Homo sapiens: one gene and its partners. The protein of the gene in region 3 purifies or fractionates together with the protein of the main gene of each other region. This does not show direct contact. Each region holds a gene or a part of one and is shown on either strand. Other genes may lie near its edges.

Region 1 (3,500 bases), on a different chromosome or scaffold from region 3:
TAGTTCCTCTAACTTCTCTCGATCCAAGAGGAAGTCTAAACTGGATGCCTGCACTAGGTCCGTTCCTACTCTCAGCTATCTACACAATTTGGTCAAATAATAAAAAACTGAAGAAGTATTTTCTCGTTTCTTCAAATGTAGAGAAAAATTATGTTAGAGTAGTTTGGGATATTTCACAGGATGGTGATGGTAATTCTCATACCAAATGACATCAATTAATATTTAAGCAGAAAAACATTAAAAGCATATTTATGCATCCTTTGTTCAAAATGTGTCCAACAGATTTGGTGCCATGCCCCAAACCACGAAGTGACTACAGACCTAACTTGAAATATCCTAGTAGATCCCAGTAAGAAGTTTTCACCTTCTCTGTTGACAGTTCTTGTCAAGGAAGTGATGAGATAGAAAAATCAAGCACTGGAGTCAGATGGACCTCAGTTCAAATCCTGGCTCTACCAATGAGTGGTTGTGGGGGGGAGCTCTGGACAGGTGATGCTGTCCTTGAGACTTACCATATGACCACGTGCACAGAAGAAATTCGTATGTACAAGCATGCAAAACTCAAAGCCCCATATGATCAATTAAAAATTAAGACTAGGAATGCAGCCACATCAAATAACTGTTGGTGTGGGCTAAGGGTTTCCTTTAAGTAAAGGAGCAACAGGATTCTCCTATCCAAATACTTCGAATATTTTTCTAGTAAGTGAGCTTTATGCAGTCAGGCCAGCTAAACAGCATTATCTTTTAAAATCAAGGAACTGAGAGCAATTTAAAAAAGTAATCTTTGGCCAATAAAAATGATTTACTATCTTCATCTAAAAAGCTTTAATTTCTCAACATCTGGCAGAAAAACGCTGACATTTTCTTTCTCTCAACAAAAGAAAGTTAGCTTAAAATAATTGCTTAAACTTACCTCATTAATACTTCATGGAAATTTCACTCTAATTTACTTAAAAATTACTCTTCCTGACAGGGCGCAGTGGCTCACGCCTGTAATCCCAGCATTCTGGGAGGCCAAGGTGGGCAGATCGTGAGGTCAGGAGATCAAGACCATCCTGGCTAACACGGTGAAACCCTGTCTCTGCTAAAAATACAAAAAATTAGACGGGTGTGGTGGCGGGCGCCTGTAGTCCCAGCTACTTGGGAGGCTGAGGCAGGAGAATGGTGTGAACCCGGGAGGCGGGGCTTGCAGTGAGCTGAGATGGTGCCACTGCACTGCAGCCTGGGCAACAGAGCAAGACTCCGTCTCAAAAATAAGAAATAAAAATAAAATAAAAATTACTCTTCCAAGTTGTTGATAAACATCCTTTTCTTTATTCTTCTTCAAGATTTATTTTCTTGGCCTTCCCAAGCTGCTTTCGCAGACTTTCTGCCTGGCTCTTTCAAATCCACAGCAGCCCCTCTCTTTATATGCCCACCTTCCTTTCTTAAACACGCACACATTCTCCAAGCAGTGCCTGACAGCCTTCTTTGCATCAAGGAGCACTTACAAATGATCCAGAGACCGAGGAGAATACTGTCTAGGCACACCTGCTGGAGACTCCTCCCCGAAACTCTCCAACATCCCTCTAGCCAGATACAATCAACATGTGAAGATAATGAAGACCAAGAAAAAAGCCTCCTAGGGCATAGGATACAGCTGATCCTCCTCCCTACATTCAGCGATTGGCCTGCTCTGCTCTCGCTCCTCCGACAGCTTCACCTGCTCCTCTTCATGTTCCTGTGCCTGGGTCCAGGGCTCATCCTGTTGTGGTCGTGGTGGCGGCTTCAGCCCTTAGAGCTTCCCTTGGCTCTCTCCTCAGGACAGCTAAGAGCACCAGTGTGGAGTCACCCTTCAGTTCAAATGCAGATCAGTCCTTTCTTGTTTCATGACCTTTCTTTAGCCCTCACTTTCTTTTGTAATTCTAAAATAATAATTGGTTTTTTGTTGTTGTTTGTTTGTTTTTTTGAGACGGAGTCTCGCTCTGTCACCCAAGCTGGAGTGCCATAGCGTGATCTTGGCCCACTGCAACCTCCACCTCCCGGGTTCAAGCGATTCTCCTGCCTCAACCTCCTGAGTAGTTGGGATTACAGGTGCCCACCACCACACCCAGCTAATTTTTGTATTTTTAGTAGAGATGGGGTTTCGCCATGTTGGTCAGGCTGGTCTTGAACTCCTGACTTCAGGTGATCCGCCCACCTCAGCCTCCCAAAGTGCTGGGATTACGCCCAGCCAATTCCAAAATAATAATTTTTTTAAAAAAATTAGGCTGGGCCAGGCATGGTGGCTCAGGCCTGTAATCCTGCAACTTTGGGAGGCTGAGGCAGGAGGAATCCTTGAGCCCAGGAGTTCGAGACCAGCCAGGGCAATATAGGGAGCCCGTCTCTTTAAAAAAAAAAAAAAAAAAATAGGCCAGGTGGGTGGCTCATGCCTGTAATCCTAGCACTTTGGGAGGCCAAGGCAGGAGGATTGCTTGAAGCCAGGAGTTCCAGGTTGCAGTGACTGATAATCATGTCACTGCACTACAGCCTGGGTGGCAAAGTGAGACTCTGTCTTTAAAACAAAAATAAACAAATAAATGATATACAAGTATGTAGCGCATGCATTCTCAACAGGGGTGGTGGTGTCCCAAAGAGGTGAAAAGTGTTTCTTGTGGTGGTTTCTACCAATGGTGAAAAAAATCTTAAGACAATACAAAAACTTGGGACCCTCCAAAGCTCAACTCTACCCAACAAAATCTTATTCCTTTGTACTAAATCTAGCAAGGGATAGGAGGTAACTAGGAACAATGTCTAAAACAACTCTTGGAGAAGGTGATCATGAAAACAAGGTTAAGAAACACTGAGATAACACTAAAATGTACAAGTCTCTCCCCCCACAAATCACACTCCATTCCCAGAGGGAAGGGCCTATCCTTCAGCCAATTATTCTTCCAGCCCACAGGCACACATATCACATATCACTATTAATCATATATCCAAGAGCTCTGGACTAAGACCACCTTCAGAAACACAACCCCGAGGGCCTATGTGTCCTAACAGTGAAGGCAGACACTAGAGCAGATACAAGCCTACCAGCTGCTGGGAAACAGCCATGCCCCTCCCTGGCTCTGAAATTTGAGAAGCTTCCCCCTAAGAACCCTCAGAAAGGGAGAAAGAGTAAAGGGAGACCTAGCTTCAAAAAGCACCTCCACAGCTGACCCAAAAGCTCGATTCCTGCGCTGTTGAATGGTACTTCTCGGTGTACGCCGAGAGCATTCAGCTCAAGTACCATTTGAAAAAAAGATGGGGGCACATCTGCCATGAGGTAGAGTGATGACATTCATGTACAAGAACTGTCTGATGCCCCCATTACACCCAGGACATTCCAGAATCTACTGAAGAATGAAGACTGCTTGTTTTTCACATGGATTCCTTCTCACAATGTATTATCATCACAGAGCTTGTTCAAACCTGGAAGCAGACAATTCCTGGTTATTGTCCCCAGTGATTACAACAGTCTCCCTAATTTCAGCTGTGGC
Region 2 (4,037 bases), on a different chromosome or scaffold from region 3:
TATCTGGCGGTCTTGATTTGAATCTACTAATCATCTTTCGGCCTTTTTTTTTCTTTGCTGAAATGTATCTAAGAGCTTAGAAGTAGCATTCTGCTCATTTCCCCCCCACCCCCAGGAGTGCCCCAAGCTTTCTTGAGCTGACTGATTGTAGATGTTCTTTTTTTTTTGTTCCCCAGTGTGTTGCCTGTGAGTGTGACCTCGGAGGCTCTTCCTCAGGAGCTGAAGTCAGGATCAGAAACCACCAACTGTACTGCAACGACTGCTATCTCAGATTCAAATGTAAGAGAGCAAATCAGAGAGAAAATTTCTTGCCTTTTAAGGAGGCCACGGGTTCCCATGCATTTCCCTGAACCTGCAGCGAGCTCCCCTCCAAGTTCACTGCCATAGGATTCCAGGTTTCAAGAATTGTAGTGTGTTCCCTTCAAAGAGTGTGTATAGTGAATGGGTCACTGCTCAGGGTTCCAGCTACACAGGAGTGGGTTGTGGGGCCAAGGAATGGAGAGGAACAGTGTCCAAAAGTCAGGATGGTGTCTTGTGTTATCTGCCCAGAGTCCGCAGAGACCTTTAATGACTCAAGAATACAAACAAACCAAAACACTTAAATGAATCTTCTATGTAGGATTTGTTTCTTGACTAAAGATTGGTCCCTCATCAACTTCTATTATTTAACAATGGGCTTTGATTATGTGATTTAGAATATGACCAACTTTAAAAAATATTGTTCCATGTAATACAAAATAAGTCAGTTTATGCTTTATGTTAATATATGTCAATATATAATTTTAAAAGGAAAGTATTAACTATGGTGTTTCAGTGTCATTTTTGGAAAAAATGAGTTTTTCAAAAAACTTCAAATGCTACTTTGCATCTAAGCATGTGTTTGTGTGTTATAAAAGGTAGGCTAGCATAACTAGGTTGTGTGTTGTGTATAGCTACAGCAAGACAAGTATTACTGCTGTTTTATATTTTAAACCTTGATGCTGGTAACATGTGTTTCTTCCTTATTGTGAAAGGGTGTTACAAGTGGTATCAGCAAAATCATTTGCTTTTGAACTCTGAGGTATTTATATGGCCCCTATGTGAAGAGTGCTTTGGAAATGGTTTAAGCCCAGTCAACTCTCTTTTATCTGTCGGTGGGTTCTGAGCCTTCCTGCTGCAGCTGTCCAGTCCTTTCCTGGATGCTGACACTGAGGTTGGAGAAAGTCAAGGCTGGGCATGTACTGGTGGGGGGTGTGTGTATGTGTGTGTGTTTTTCTCTCTCTCATCAAATTCCAAAGCCAAATAGAAATGATTTCTGGAATCACCATTGTAAAATTGCCCATGCCTTTTCTCTCCTCCAAAACAAATAATAGAGAGTTGAGTGTAATTTATTTCTATTGTGAGCAGTTCATTTTTACTCCATTTTTACAAATAAAGAATTCCAGAGACGAGACACTGAGACTTGCCTAGCTTTATCCTAAGAGTGAGTGACAGGTTACTCTTTCTACCTCATTGGGCCACTTTCTGAGTGATGACTGCTATGTATCCCAGATGGCAATATTCACGTTTCTGAATCTAAGCACTTTTCTTTCTTTTCTCCTTGCCCGATCAGCTGGACGGCCAACCGCCATGTGATGTAAGCCTCCATACGAAAGCACTGTTGCAGATAGAAGAAGAGGTGGTTGCTGCTCATGTAGATCTATAAATATGTGTTGTATGTCTTTTTTGCTTTTTTTTTAAAAAAAAGAATAACTTTTTTTGCCTCTTTAGATTACATAGAAGCATTGTAGTCTTGGTAGAACCAGTATTTTTGTTGTTTATTTATAAGGTAATTGTGTGTGGGGAAAAGTGCAGTATTTACCTGTTGAATTCAGCATCTTGAGAGCACAAGGGAAAAAATAAGAACCTACGAATATTTTTGAGGCAGATAATGATCTAGTTTGACTTTCTAGTTAGTGGTGTTTTGAAGAGGGTATTTTATTGTTTTTTAAAAAAAGGTTCTTAAACATTATTTGAAATAGTTAATATAAATACATAATTGCATTTGCTCTGTTTATTGTAATGTATTCTAAATTAATGCAGAACCATATGGAAAATTTCATTAAAATCTATCCCCAAATGTGCTTTCTGTATCCTTCCTTCTACCTATTATTCTGATTTTTAAAAATGCAGTTAATGTACCATTTATTTGCTTGATGAAGGGAGCTCTATTTTCTTTACCAGAAATGTTGCTAAGTAATTCCCAATAGAAAGCTGCTTATTTTCATTAATGAAAAATAACCATGGTTTGTATACTAGAAGTCTTCTTCAGAAACTGGTGAGCCTTTCTGTTCAATTGCATTTGTAAATAAACTTGCTGATGCATTTAACGAGTGGGTCGTCTTTTTCTTAGGTGTATGTGTCTGACCTCAGGCCTTTTAGCCATATTTCAGTATGTGGCCTTTTTTGATGTTATGTTTTATCCAGTAGCTTTACTAAGGTATAATTGATGTAATAAACTGCATATATTTAAAGTGTATACTTTGACAAATTTTGACATGGTGTATACCTTCGAAACTATGCCACAGTCTGGATGTGTTTACTGAAACATTTTAATAAGGAAGTTTATTTTTGATAAAGTTATGTTTTTGGATACAATATATTTGTATGGTGAGAGTGATGAATTGTTGGATCATTTGAATAAAATCTTTTACTAACCCCATGATAAAAGGAGAAGACAACAGTGAGCTTAGAATATCTATAAAGCAAAAAATGTAGTCTCTTGTTTAAAAAATCTGGAGCGGGAATGCAAGGATACAAAACTTTAGCATGCTTTGAGCAAAAATTTAAACTTACTGGAATCTTTTATAATAATGTAAGTGGAATGGAGGATTCTAGGAACTGAGAACTGTATTGGAATAGGTTCAAAATATGTAAGAAATGCTAATGTGGGAGATAAAAATTTTATTTAGTACTTATTCTGATTATTATTAAAGTAATAATGTGTTCCTTGAGGATAACTTGTCAAATGCCCCAAAGCATAAAGAATATAATTCTGAATCCCAAATTCCAAAGACAAGAACTCTGTGTTTGAATTCATTCTGCATATAATTATTTATAAGTATAGATTGTGAATTTTTCCATGTTCTTAAAATTATTTTTATCTTTTTTCATGGTTGCATAGTGCTCCATTGTTTGGCCTTGGTAATATTTAGTTGATAATTCCATTACTGTGTATTTTTCACTTGTTTCTAAGATCAAACATTTTAATATGTGCATGTTATATATAAATATGTAAATTCTGTGATACTCTATGATCATCTCTTTCTTTATATTATTTTCATAGACATGAAATAGTTGCTCAGAGATTATGCATTTTAAGACACTCATAGTATATATTGCCAAAGTGGTTTCCAGAAAGGCACTGCTGGCTTCGACTCCTATAAGCAGCACGTGGGCTTGTTCATCTCACTGCATGTTTATGAAGATACAGTTCTTTTGCCTTGTTCTCTGCCTGATGTGTATGCAGAGGCAGCCCTCAATATGCAGTGGTTGAATAAATGAATGAAGAAACCACTATCAATTTCTGCCTTGTTAATTCTGTTTTCCACTGTCCCCAGAGGATGCCTTAATTCTGCCATCATTTTCGTTTCCTTATCCAAAATCCTTTCTGACCATTGCTCCTTTTCATCTAAGCCTTTTGTCTTTTCATCTGCTCTTGTTTTCTTATGATTTTTTCCCCCATTTCTCACATTATCTTACTTAGTGATAACATTTCTGTTAGTACAAATTATAAGTACAGTTTTCAGAGCTATTTTCTTCTAGGATACCGGCTCTACATTTGTATAAGCCCTTGGGTATTTGTTACTTCACCTAGGAACAAGGGAAGAGTCCAGCCCTTCAACAAATTTTTTAATTCATACTTTATGCTCCAGGCACTGCTTTTGGCACCATGGGTAGAACAGTGAAGAAATACAGTCTTGGCTCTGATTGGTCTTATTTTTCTGGTTGAGGGAGGTGATAAAACAATACATGAAAAAATAACATGCAGGTGGCGATGAGAGCAACAAAGAACAAAT
Region 3 (3,500 bases):
GACAGGGACAGGTGCATAGAAGAGGTCTGGTCTCTCGTGAAGCCATTCTGTTTGCCACAGAGGACATGTAGATTTATCACTTCTTCCCAATATTCCCATTTGAGATCTAAGCAAAGGAAAGTGCTAGGTTACTTCTAATCAGAGCTAGCCACCCCTCATTCAATGGCCACATGCCAGGGCTACGCACACTCTTCACTCTCCACAGCCGCGTAGTTGCCAACTTCTTTGAAGCTGATGTTTCCCAGGTGGAGAATACCCGCCACTATCTGCAACACCAGCGTTTGCTCTTCTGCAAAGATCCCAATCACATTCATGGCGTGCTGGAAGAGAAAAGAGAAACTATCCAGAGAAGCTGGTCACCAGCTTTAAAAGCACCTTAGGAAGAAGCCAAGGCACAGCAGCTGCTCTAAATAAGGATGTGACAAGTACAGACGAGTTACAAAGAAAAAAAAAAAAAAAAGCCAAAACATAAGATTGGGTTGTGCAGTCACATGTGGCTTAGCTTGTGATGACAGCAGGACGTTCTTGTACAACATGGTCACTGCCCAATGCACACATTCTTCTCACGTCTCAAAGTCATGCTGGAAGGGCACTTCTGTCTCTAAGCATAGCATGCCATCCTCCAGGAATAAGAGAATACTCCAGGAGGAAAGAGACTCGGAAGAGTGGTAGTTGTACACAAAGTCTCCAAGTCCTGTCTTCATCCTTTGATGTGTTCTTGTTGCCAGCTTCCCCTCGAAGGTCGCTGCTGACCTTTCCACCTACTCAAAGTGGACTCGAGATCTTTCCCTTCATCAGGAGGGATAAGAATATATTGTACTTGCAAAAGGATCTTAATGAAAAATCTCCAGGAAATCCAATAAAAGCATCATTTAAAAGTCCAGTTTCTGAGGTCCCTTAAATGCAATAAATACCGCTAAAATGTCTAAATCTTAAGAGAAACATCTCCTAAGAAAACTACACTCTAGGACCAGTGTGCAGACTCCTTATTGGCACTTTTCCCCGCAGCTGCTTTGAGGCCATGTGACCTGTTGATACCATTTTGTTTCCTGGCACCCAGGACACAGTCTGTTTGAACTTTCTGTCCCTTTCAACCACAAATGTACTGAACCCACGCTGCTCATTCAGAGTCTACTGCTCAGTTCTGGATCTGGGTTGAGGAATAGTCCCCAGCTTGAAACAGACTCAAAGGGCAGTGGGTGGCAATGAAGGCCTTTGAGGCCAAGTGGGTGTTCAGCCTACCTCCAGAAAGTTCTACATTATTGCCCCCAGGATGGAACCCCTCCATAATCTACCTAGTTTCACAGCTTGGACCATAACATACATGCAATGTGAAGGGCATGGCACAGAAAAAGGGTCCTCTGCCCTAAACAATACAGAGGGGAAGAGAGTCTTCAAAACCAGAAAAGAAATAAGAGAAAAGACTAAAGACGTTCCAAAATGTCTAAACCTATTCAGTCCATAGACGTGCGGTTTGCTTAGCTTTTCTAAGGAAATAGCTCACGAATAGAGTAGGCCATCAGCAAACAGGTATGCTCAACGTATGAATCATTTTTGCCTATTTATCAGAGCTCCTGCAGGGTGATAATGATGAATTCATTTCTTTTTACCCATCTCAAATCATTAAGTGGTCCTCAGGCAACTGGCACATGGCTGTTTAAGGATACTGAAACATGTATGAGCATACAGAGTGCTCACAGAGAAAGAGGCGGACATTTCATGCAGCTCTTTGCTTTATTAACCTTCACTGCCCTTTTGGCCACAGGAAATGGCCAGTTGGGAGAGCAGATCCTGCCTGGCCCTGCGCCAGCACTTACCAGAGTTTCCTGAAACTCCCGCCTGTCGTCAATGTCATCAACCTTGTATGAGCCCGAGAGGCTCAGGTAGTAATAATAGTCCATGCTGGTGATGCCAAGGCTGTGTTTCTGCTCTGCAGAGGCGCCCTCGATGAGCTGGAGCAAGAGAACACAGGTTGAGCCATGATGTGGACCACAAGGCACCCGAAGTCACTCCTGCATCCTGCAGCCACCATCCCTAAGGACTTTCTATCTCTGCTTTCTAAAATTACAGGCAGTCCTGGCCCCCAAATATGTACTTGTAGTAGCCCCAGGTCATCTCTGCAAATTTTGATTCCTAACTCTGGAAAGACCTGCAAGAGCTGAGGATTTTCCATTGTCCACTGAAAGGAACTGGACTGCCACCCTCGGAAGAGTGGAAAGCAAAACAGATTTTAATTACTTAGTTCCTGCCCAACTTGCTATGGCTTTTTAAGCTGGCTTTTCCATGTTTCTCACTGCAGGGTGCATGTTAAAAAACTGCCATGCAGCTTCCTGCTCTCTGGTACTCTTTGCCTTCTTTAGAAGCTTTTCCTTGACTGTGAACTTCTCCAAGCTGCAGGATCTACTTCCTTGCCATGACATAACCACTTGCATTCTAGCTTCTCCCCTCACCACTCTGGCGGAACCCTTGCATGGCTATTTTTCAGTGCCTAAATCCAACAGCCTTTTTTTTGGCCCCCACACCCCAGCTCGTCCCTTTTGCCCAAGAGCTCTGACCATTTGATCCTGTCGATGTCGCCCTGAGGCTTCCCTGGCTTGGTGACACTGCAGGATCCTGGCTTTCCTCCTTATCCTTCAACTACTTCCCTGCTGGCTCTTCAATGCCTCCCGATCCTACATATCTAGAAAGTCCCCTGGTCCTGTGTGGCAGGATTTTCTCCCCACATCCACTCCCAAGTATTTCGTAGCTTCAAGAATTTCTTTTTCTTTCTTTTCTTTTCTTTTTTTTTTTTTTGAGACGGAGTCTCACTCTGTCGCCCAGGCTGGAGTGCACTGGTGCGATCTCCGCTCCCTGCAAGCTCCGCCTCCCAGGTTCACGCCATTCTCCTGCCTCAGCCTCCTGAGTAGCTGGGACTACAGGCGCCCACCACCACGGCCAGCTAATTTTTTGTATTTTTAGTAGAGACAGGGTTTCACTGTGTTAGCCAGGATGGTCTCGATCTCCTGACCTCGTGATTCACCCACCTTGGCATCCCAAAGTGCTGGGATTACAGGCGTGAGCCACCGCACCCAGCCAAGAATTACTTTCATGTCAGAATCTTGAACCCCTGCGCCCATCAGTTCCCAGCCTCTATTCTGGTGGTTTCTGACTTAAGGGCAGAGAACTCCTGGGGGAGGGTTGGGGCTTGCATTTATTTAAAGAAGTCCTGACATCCATTATACACTTCCATCTAGCACTGGGTATTATTTATGTGAAATATATAATTATTTTTCACTTATCTATATATGTTGCTTTAATACAATTTTAAAAATGACTGAATTCACAGAAGTTTTAATCATTTATATACTTTTTCAACCAACAGGTACAAACTAAAAGAATTATTTGGCATTGCCTAAGATGTGTGTGTAATTGAAAAGATTGAATGTGAGCTACTTCCACAGTTTAATGTCCTTCTAATCCAGTGATCCACAAACTAAACACGAAATGAAACAAAACAAAAC
Region 4 (3,500 bases), on a different chromosome or scaffold from region 3:
GTAACTTCATTTCTACCAAAACCACATGCTTGCTAAAAGGATAAGCGGCCTTCCAAGATAGAAGCATTCCTCAGAAATTCAAGGGCCTTCTTGTTTGTTATATATGCTTCTAATCATAATCAGTACATCCTAGTCTGTTATTCCTTGTACTTCTCTGCATTCTGAGCCTATGAAATTGAGTACAAAGATCTACTTCCATCCCCTATTTATTCTCCATAAACTGGGAGATAATTTTAAATTCTTTTTATAAAATATCCTTTATAGTTACTCTCAAAATGTTTGATTATTACAGTTGTAAAACTTAAAAGCTGAGATGTCATTTATTGTTAAAAATTGAATATAATCGTGAATGACTTAAAAAAAAAACGTATTCCTGGCCAGGCACAGTGGCTCACGCCTGTAATCCCAACACTTTAGGAGGCAGAGGTGGGTGGATCACTTGAGGTCAGAAGTTCGAGACTAGCCTGGCCAACATGGTGAAACCCCATCTCTACCAAAAATACAAAAATGAGCTGGGCGTGGTGGCGTGAGCCTGTAATCCCAGCTGAGGTCCAAGAATCGCTTGAACCCCAGAGGCACAACTTGCAGTGAACCGAGATCACACCACTGCACGCACTCCAGCCTGGGCCACAGAGCAAGACTCTGTCTCAATAAAAACAAACAAACAAAAAAAGATTTAAAAAAATGTATTCCTGATACCCAAAGACAATACTATGACCCTCATTACTTTAGGTAAATTAGCTTCCCATTTAAGATGGTTTGAGGAGTAAAGAAATCTGTTAACTAGGACTTTTTTCCCTAATAACACTATTTAATACATTAAGCCTAACAATTTATTATTACTATTTCCAATAGAATCTTTTTTATCTTATAAAAAAGATAAATTAGGATAATAATAAAATAGAAAAGAATAAAAGAAGTGTTTCTTTTCGAGACATCATACTGACTATCCCATAACAATATTCAGTACAGTAGTTTCCAGTTTCATGCCATGACACTAATGCAAACTTCTGAAGTCTGAAATATTTTAAATACAGCTGAAGGGCAAAATTGTCCCTTCAAAGTTTCGTAAGTATTAAAATAGTGCTTTGGTCACAATGGATGAGAAATAAGATATAATGAATGAGTGGAATACCCCAAATAAAAGGTATTATGCTTACAACGATAACCCCTTCAAGATGAAGATCATACTTCCCTCTTTCAACAAACTGTGTAGTGAATTTAACCTTGTTGATACTTCTTCTTTTAAACAATCTTTTGTATTTTAATTACTAATCACAGTTTTCACTTTGGGAATTACACAAAGCCATTTCAGGGAGCCAAGACTGCCCTAAATCTACTATTACTAATTAAACATCTTATTTATCCAACCAGAATGAAAATTCTAGAGAATTTCCAAATTCAACATGTAAGAATTATTTTCAACCACCACCAAAGGACGGCATACAACGTGACACTTCAATTTATATAAAAACAACTAAGTATGCAATAAAAATTTTAAACAGGCTGCCGTGATGTAAGTCATCACAATATCCCACACACCACACTTTAGATAAAATACTGTCAACATCTGTATGTGATGGAGGAGCCTAGAGCACACCCAAGTCAGATTCAAATTCAAGTCTGGATCATTCTTCAATGTGATGTTAAACAAGCCACTTAACCTCTGCATTTGTTTCCTCTCTGAGGAATGACGTGACATCTAAATTCCATACTCAACATGATTGTTACAATTCATAAACTATATAATGCTACAAAAAATAAGGCGTTATGCAGTTTTATTCTTTTTTTTTTTTTTTTTTTTTTTTGTAGAGATGGGATCTCCCTACGTTGCCCAGGCTGCTCTCATACTCCCGGACTCAAGCAATCCTCCCACCTTGGCGTCCCAAAATGCTGCGATTACAGGCAAGAGCCACTGTGCTCTAACCATTATGCGTATTTTTATATACTTATACATTTATGGCTAAATCATGCCAAGCCAAACAGGGCCAAATAAATAATGGCACTAAAATAATTTTAAGTTATTTATCATAGTGATTTTATGCTTCCACTGAAGACTATCGAAAATAAGTTTGGTTGAACTATGAAGTTTAAACTATTACTCACTCGCCAACGGATAGTAAGTTCTGCTTCTCATCTTTTTTTATTCGTGGGCGCCCTGGTTTCATCTTCAAAGGTGAAGTTGGAGTCTTCTGAGCAGCAGGTTGAATGAAATGTGCAAAAAGTTCTGTCTGCTTTAATAAATACTCGAATCTATTTGCCCGGTCAGTTTGCTGAAAAAAAAAAATTTAAGATACATTTTATCAGAGTATCAATTAAAACTTCAGAAATCAAAGTTTCAGCATGCCTCCATACAATGAACTCAGCAAAAAAAAAAAGAGAACTACAGATAAATGCAACATGGATGAGTTTCAAAAGCACTATGCAAAGTGAAAGAAGCCAAACACAAAAGACTACATGCTGTATGATTCCACTTAAATGAAATGCTAACTAGTGATAGAAAGCAGATCAGAAGTGGCAAGGAGGTGGGAGCAAGAACTGATTAGAAAGGAGCAGGAGCAAACTTTGGGGATGATGGAACTACTCTGCATCATGATTGTGATGGTATTTAAAGAAATATTTGCTAAAACTCATTGAATTACAAACTTAAAATTATTTTATGTCAATTATACTTCAATACAGTTGATCGGAACAATTTTTAAAATATTAAACACTGTGCAATACAAGTGAATTTACTCAGAAGCTGGAAAAAATGCAGTGCTCATTCATTAGTTAGGCTGTGACAAATTTTAAAACGGTATTGGGATTGATACTATTCCTTCCTTTCGTATCTGCCATCTGCCCCTTTGAATGTTCCCTATTATAATACCGAGAGAATGGAAAAAATTTACTTGGGCAAAAAAAACCTTAAGAGCCTCGAAGACAAATTTTCATAAAAATAATGAAATTGGGAGCCATTAGGCAGCCTTTATACAAAAACAATAATAGTTTGATGAAACAAAGGAGAAGCAAGACAAGAAAAGCTCAATAAACAGGGAAACCAACTACTCAACATCTCTGTCTATAAATGTTTAAAATGTCAGTTTGGGAATAAATTACAAAAAGACATTTTACCTAGCAAACACAAGAAGTATCCAAATGCCATAATGTTGTAACAACTACGTATTTTTAAAAGGAACATAATCATTTTTTAAGGTCACACCAATGTAAAAACTGAAGCCCAATTTGCTATTAGGAAGGCACATGGTTATAGTGTTTCATTGGGTCACAAATGGCAGTCATAGCAGCAAATGAATCTGCACAGTAACAAGACTGTGAACATGCTAGAACCCCAGTAATGTCCTACAGATGACAAGCCTCTGTTATTTATGTTTTCCAAGATTACAGACTGTTTTTAAAGTGCTGAACAAGATACATATGTGAATGCATATTTTACATAATTACATTTCTTAATTTATAGATAATGAAACAAAAGCCAAGAGCACGCATCTACAAGATGT

What was found. Proteins that work in one complex are often made in the same cells at the same time.
Region 1: the proteins of MYO1E (region 3) and CNN3 fractionate together in Homo sapiens (co-fractionation; one large-scale study listed by BioGRID). This does not show direct contact.
Region 2: the proteins of MYO1E (region 3) and LMO7 fractionate together in Homo sapiens (co-fractionation; one large-scale study listed by BioGRID). This does not show direct contact.
Region 4: the proteins of MYO1E (region 3) and SMARCA5 purify together in Homo sapiens (affinity purification with mass spectrometry; one large-scale study listed by BioGRID and IntAct). This does not show direct contact.

What each region holds. Positions count from the first base shown.
Region 1 is NC_000001.11:94,906,611-94,910,110, forward strand, and holds part of CNN3 (calponin-3), read right to left. Parts: intron 1-3,500. UniProt on the Homo sapiens protein: Thin filament-associated protein that is implicated in the regulation and modulation of smooth muscle contraction. It is capable of binding to actin, calmodulin and tropomyosin. The interaction of calponin with actin inhibits the actomyosin Mg-ATPase activity.
Region 2 is NC_000013.11:75,856,330-75,860,366, forward strand, and holds the end of LMO7 (LIM domain only protein 7), read left to right. Parts: intron 1-176; coding exon 177-279; intron 280-1,591; coding exon 1,592-1,614; coding exon of another isoform or gene 1,615-1,684; 3' UTR 1,685-3,537; downstream 3,538-4,037.
Region 3 is NC_000015.10:59,222,872-59,226,371, forward strand, and holds part of MYO1E (unconventional myosin-Ie), read right to left. Parts: intron 1,953-3,500; coding exon 1,818-1,952; intron 321-1,817; coding exon 188-320; intron 1-187. UniProt on the Homo sapiens protein: Actin-based motor molecule with ATPase activity. Unconventional myosins serve in intracellular movements. Their highly divergent tails bind to membranous compartments, which are then moved relative to actin filaments.
Region 4 is NC_000004.12:143,520,202-143,523,701, reverse strand, and holds part of SMARCA5 (SWI/SNF-related matrix-associated actin-dependent regulator of chromatin subfamily A member 5), read right to left. Parts: intron 2,274-3,500; coding exon 2,107-2,273; intron 1-2,106. UniProt on the Homo sapiens protein: ATPase that possesses intrinsic ATP-dependent nucleosome-remodeling activity.